Linked DNA regions of Homo sapiens. The protein of the gene in region 1 binds, or shares a complex with, the protein of each later gene. Each region holds a gene or a part of one and is shown in the gene's direction. Other genes may lie near its edges.

Region 1 (2,312 bases):
CAGGATCCTTCAAGGTGACTTTTGTCTTTGGAGTGACTTCACGCTGAGAACTTATGGTCCTGTCCTTCTGTAGGAGGTGGGATCTGGGTCAAGACCCCTTAGTTGTGCATTGCTTCAGTATTAACCCCTTCCTTCCTGTGGCTTAAGCTGGAAGTCATGACCACATTTTGAATCAGGTTCCAATATCTACACTGCTATCGTAGGAGGTCTCTGGAAAATAGTATAATTAGAGATTTCCCCTGGTTCCCATCAGAATAACTGGCTCTTTCCCCCATCACTGAAGGCCTCAGTAATCAGATGTGGGGAGGATTCACAGTAAGCATATAAGACCGCCGCTTCTCAAATGAGGTTGGAATGTTCCCTGGTTTAGTTGGGGGAGCCCAATAGCCCAGTATTAGCCTTGAGGTAATAGAGTCTGGGTGATGGAATAAGGTTTCCCCAACAGAACTGCGCTTCCCAAGAATGGGAATAAGAATGGGGGTGAGGCCAGCATGGTGCGGGGGTGTCTAGAGAGAGCAGAAACCTGAGGCTGTCCCAATGGCATGCCACAGGGGGAACGCCTGAGCCGCTTTGGACTCCGCACAGAGACCACAGGCACTGTCACCTTCCGCTTGCACTGTCTGCAGCAGTCCAGGTGAGTGACTTGGCCCTCTGCCTCAGGGCACCTTAGCCCTGAGGGGTGGAGACAGCCGTAACCATGTGGCTGGCCTCCCTGCAGGGCCTTCATGGAATCGAGCTCCCTTCAGAAAAGGATGCGGAGTGTGTTGGACCGTCTGGAAGGGTTCAGCCAGCAGAGTTCCATTCACAATGTGCTAGGTATGTCCCCTCCCCCAGCTGGCCACCCCAGGTCAGCATGGGCCTGTTTCTCTCTGCAGTGCAGAGAGAAATACCATATGGCAGCCAAATAGCATATCTCCTTTCCTTACAGAGGCCTTCCGTCGAGCCCGGCGCCGCATGCAGGAGGCCCGGGAAAGCCTCCCGCAGGACCTAGTGAGCCCCTCTGGAACCCTGGTCTCCTAGCTCACAGCAGCCCTGGCCCACAGTGCAAGAGGACAAGATGGGGGATATCTGAGGCCAGTGCTCTCCTGCCTCTTCGTCTTTCTGATTAGAGACCACGTTGGTCTGCTGAGAACCAGAAAAGCTGGGAAATTCCCGGCTGGCCCCTCTGCCTAGCCTTCTGCAGGGTCTTCTCCCTACCCTGTGGAAATAAAGCCAGAGACCCTGTGGCCCCCCCTTTATATTTGCAGCCACTGTCAATGGGCATCACAGCAAGGCAGGCTTTTTGATCTGAAGCTGTTTGGGGTGACCCCATAGTGAGTCTGGCCTTGACTCACTTTTCTGGCTTGTCTCACAGTAGCAGGGGATCTGCTGTTCTCCACCCTTTAAAAATGGAGCCTTTCATCTTCCAAGACCAAAGAAGGAAGGAAGGTGGACGGTGAGAGGGTCTTAAATCCCCAGCCTGTGAGTCTCAGCCTCTTTCCAGGGAAGCCTCATTCTACTGCTTGGGGCTTGCTGAGGTTGAGATATGAGTTATTTCTGAGTAAGTGAAGGCTGAAGGCAGTGCTGAGTCCTTTCTGCTAGCTGGGTGGTATCTTTTACTGTGTTTTTTTGTTTGTTTGTTTTTTTGTTTTTTGTTACATAAACCCCTTTTATTTTGACTGATGTTCTGTTGGCTGTTTGTCTGCTCAGGTTGCTGGTATGGCTAGGGTGTTCTTAATGTCGGGGCCCCTACCATGTCTGCCCTTCCCCTTTTCTGCCTTTCCCTACTCCACAGTGTTTCTTTGGGCTCTCCTAATTCAGCCCCCAGGAGAGGCTTAGATGGTTGTGCCAGCTTGCGTGTTAACAGCACTTCTCTTAAACATCTGGAGCAAAGCATGGAACTGAGGCCACGTCTTCCCTAGCCCAACACAGAAACAGCAGCCCCTGCCCTTAGCAGTGCTTTATTGGTAGAAGCAGAGCATGCTGCCTGGCCTCAGGCTCAGAGGAGTATTGTGGGGTGTCTGGAGGCTAGGACCGAGTGGTCTCTTAGTCATGGTGAGGGAGGGGAGGGAGGGCTGGGAAACAGTAGAAAGTGCTGTAAACCCTCCAGCTGACTTTTCTTGCCTGGGGTGCAAGACCACATGGCTTGGCTCCCAAGCCTTTGCACGTGGCGCTGATTCATAGCCTAATACCTAAGAGGCTCCCAAGGCGGGAAGGTCCATTGCTGATAGGAGCCCCCAGCCTTCACTCCTGGCTGGGGAACCCAGCTCTGAGCTGTAGCCAGCAGAAGCGTCAGCAGCCTGCACTTGCTCCAGGGAGACAAGGCAGCCTCA
Region 2 (3,654 bases), about 39 Mb from region 1:
GCCAGGCATAGGCTGGGCGCAGTGGCTCATGCCTGTAATCCCAGTACTTTGGGAGGCCAAGGCGGGCGGATCCCCTGAGGTCGGGAGTTCGAGACCAGCCTGGCCAACATGGAGAAACCCTGTCTCTACTAAAAATACAAAATTAGCCAGGCATGGTGGCACGTACCTGTAATTCCAGCTACTCGGGAGGCTGAGGCAGGACAATCACTTGAACCCGGGAGGTGGAGGTTGCAGTGAGCCAAGATCATGCCATTGCACTCCAGCCTGGGCAACAAGAGCGAAACTCCGTCTCAAAAAAAAAAAAAAAAAAAAAAAATTAGCCAGGCCCGTGGCAGGTGCCTATAATCCCAGCTAATGGGGAGGCTGAGTGAGGCAGGAGAATCACTTGATCCTGGGGGGCAGAGGTTGCAGTCAGCTGAGATTGTGCCACTTCACTCCGGTCTGGGCGAAAGAGTGAAACTCAATCTCAAAAAAAAAAAGAAATTAGTAAAAGAATAGCAAGTTAAACCCAAAGAAAGCAGAATAGAATGAGAAACAGCAGAAATTAATTCATTAAACAGAAAGCACACTTACAACAGAAGAGATGAAAGAGGCAAAAGTTGGTTTTTAAAACTGAAAACCCCAAGTTAAGACGATGAAAAAACAGGCTAAGTGGGGTCACTCACACCTATAATCCCAACACTTTGGGAGGCTGAGGCGGTAGGATCGCTTGAGCCCAGGAGTTCAAGACTAACCTGGGCAACATGGTGAGACCCTGTCTCTACAAAAAATAGAAAAATTGGCCAGGCACAGTGGCTCAAACCTGTAGTCCCAGCTACTCGGGAGGCTGAGGTGGGAGGATTGTTTGAGCCTAGGAGTTTGGGGGTGTAGTGAGCTATGATCATGCTACTGCACTCCAGCCTGGGTGCCAGCGCTAGACCCTATCTCTAAAAAATAATAAGAAGAAACAGAAGACAGAAATGGCAGGAATGAAAAAGGAACATGTTACAGATCTTGCAGACAGTAAAAAGATAAGATATAAAGAACAGCCATTTGCTATACATTTGGCAAGGTAGATGAAATGGTCAGATTCCTAGAAAAAGATAACTACCAAAACTGCAAAAAAGGAATAAGAATCTGAGTAGTCCTATGTCTATTAAATTGAATCTATAATTAAAAATGTTCTCACAAAGAAAGTTCCAAGTCCGAGTGTCTTCATCACTGAGTTCCACCAGGCATTTAAAGAATGACACCTTCCATGGCAGAAGTGTAAGAAAAAAAAGAAGAGGAAGTAACGACAGATTTACACAAACTCCTAGAATTGAAAAGATTAAACATTCCCCAGCTTTTTTAGGTCAGCATAGTTTTGATTCTAAAGCCTGCTGAGGACATTAAAAAGAAGAAACTCCTTCATGAACAGAGTTGCAAAACTCCCAAACAAAATATTCAGAAACTGAATTCAAAACTCCTAAATGAAATATTCAGAAACTAGCAAGATAAAAAAAGGATAATATAATACATCATGAGAAGTAGGGTTTATTCCAAAAATACAAAGGTTTTATGACATCTATAGTTGGCCAGGCACAGTGGCTCATATGGAGGCCGAGGTGGGAAGATTGCTTGAGGCCAGGAGTTTGAGACTAACCTGGGCAACGTAGCAAGACCCTGTCTCTAAATAATTCACCACATTAAAAAGAAGAAAAGTCAGAGTCAGGCCAGGCACCATGGCTCACACCTGTAATCCCAGCACTTTGGGAGGCCGAGGCAGGCAGATCATTTGAGGTCAGGAATTTGAGACCAGCCTGGCCAACATGGTGAAACTCCTTCTCTACTAAAAATACAAAAATTAGCCGGGTTTGGTGGCGCACGCCTGTGATCCCAGCTACTTGGAAAGCTGAGGCAGGAGAATCGCTTGAAACTGGGAGGCAGAGGTTCCAGTGAGCCAAGATTGCACCACTGCACTCCAGCCTGAGTGACAGAGCAAGACTCCATCTCAAAAAAAAAAAGAAAAAAAAAATCATGATCATCCCCATAAATGAAGAAAACACATGGTAAAATTCAACTCCCATTCATGATAAAAGCTTAGTAAACTAGGAATAGAAGGAAGCTTCCCTAACCTGATCAAGATTATCTATGAAAAGCTTAGAGCAAACATCACTTTTACTGGTGAAATGTTGAAAGATTTTTTCTGCAACCTCGGCCTCCTGGATTCAAGCGATTCTGGTGCCTCAGCCTTCCAAGTAGCTGGGATTACAGGCATGCACCACCATGCCCGGCTAATTTTTGTTTTTGTTTTTGTTTTTATTTTTGAGATGGAGTCTTGCTCTGTCTCCCAGGCTGGAGTGCAGTGGCACGATCTCAGCTCACTGCAACCTCTGCCTCCTGGGTTCAAGCAATTCTGCCTCAGCCTCCGGAGTAGCTGGGACTACAGGCACATGCGACCACACCCAGCCAATTTTTGTATTTTTAGTAGAGATGGGGTTTCACCATGTTGGCCAGGCTGTTCTTGAACTCCCATCCTCAGATGATCCACCTGCCTCAGCCTCCCAAAGTGCTGGGATTACAGGTGTGAGCCACCGCGCCTCGCCTAATTTTTGGATTTTTCATAGAGAAGGGGTTTTGCCACGTTACCCAGGCTGGTCTTGAACTCCTGGCCTCAAGTGATCTGCCACCTCAGCCTCCCAAAGTGCTGGGATTACAGGCATGAGCCACTGCTCCCAGCCTGGTCTTTTTTTTTTTTGAGACAGAATTTCGCTCTGTCGCCCAGGCTGGAGTGCAGTGGCGTGATCTCAGCTCACTGCAAGCTCCGCCTCCCGGGTTCACGCCATTCTCCTGCCTCAGCCTCCTGAGTGGCTGGGACTACAGGCGCCCGCCAGCCTGGTCTTTTTAATAAATGGTGCTGGGACAATTTGATATACATAGGAAAAAACTTCAGCCTGTCCTCATACACACAAGTCAATTTCAGATGGATATGTAGCATAGAGGACTATAGCCATGATATCAGGGTAAGGGAAGATTTTCTGGCAGGACTCCATGAAGGAGAAGATCAATGAAGTTGACTATATTAAAATTAAGGGCTTATGTTCATTCAAAGACATCACTAAAAATGAAAAGATAAGTCACAGGATAAACACACATATACACACTATAAATCAATAAGAAAAAGGCCAGGCCAGGCAAGGTGACTCACACCTGTAATCCCTGCACTTCGGGAGGCTGAGGCAGGAAGATTGCTTGAGCCCAAGAGTTTGAGACTAGCCTGGGCAACATAGTGAGACCCCATCTCTACAAAAAATTTAAAAATTAGGCATGGCAGCACACGCCTATAGTCCCAGCTACTTGGGAGGCTGAGGTGGGAGGATCACTTCAGCCCAGGAGGTTGAGGTTGCAGTGAGCCATGATTGCACCACTGCACTCCAGCCTGGGCAACAGAGCAAGACCCTGTCTCAAAAAAAAAAAATGTTTTTAATGAAGAAAAAAGAAAAAGACCATCAAGTAGAAAACCGGGCAAGAGACTTGAGTAGGTTCTTCACAAAAGAGGACATCCAGGTGACCAAGAAACAGGTAAAGGTCTCAACCTTATTTCAGTAAGAAAAATCTAAAATGAAGGAAAATATAAGTTAAAGCTACAGTGAGCTACCACTATTCTCTCACTAGGACGGCTCAAATTTAAAA

What was found. Proteins that work in one complex are often made in the same cells at the same time.
Region 2: MKS1 (region 1) and B9D1 share a complex: the UniProt entries of both Homo sapiens proteins name them as parts of the tectonic-like complex.

The regions. Positions count from the first base shown.
Region 1 is NC_000017.11:58,204,787-58,207,098, reverse strand, and holds the end of MKS1 (tectonic-like complex member MKS1), read left to right. Parts: coding exon 1-14; intron 15-551; coding exon 552-634; intron 635-718; coding exon 719-816; intron 817-928; coding exon 929-1,020; coding exon of another isoform or gene 1,021-1,109; 3' UTR 1,110-1,658; downstream 1,659-2,312. UniProt on the Homo sapiens protein: Component of the tectonic-like complex, a complex localized at the transition zone of primary cilia and acting as a barrier that prevents diffusion of transmembrane proteins between the cilia and plasma membranes.
Region 2 is NC_000017.11:19,349,177-19,352,830, reverse strand, and holds part of B9D1 (B9 domain-containing protein 1), read left to right. Parts: intron 1-3,654. UniProt on the Homo sapiens protein: Component of the tectonic-like complex, a complex localized at the transition zone of primary cilia and acting as a barrier that prevents diffusion of transmembrane proteins between the cilia and plasma membranes.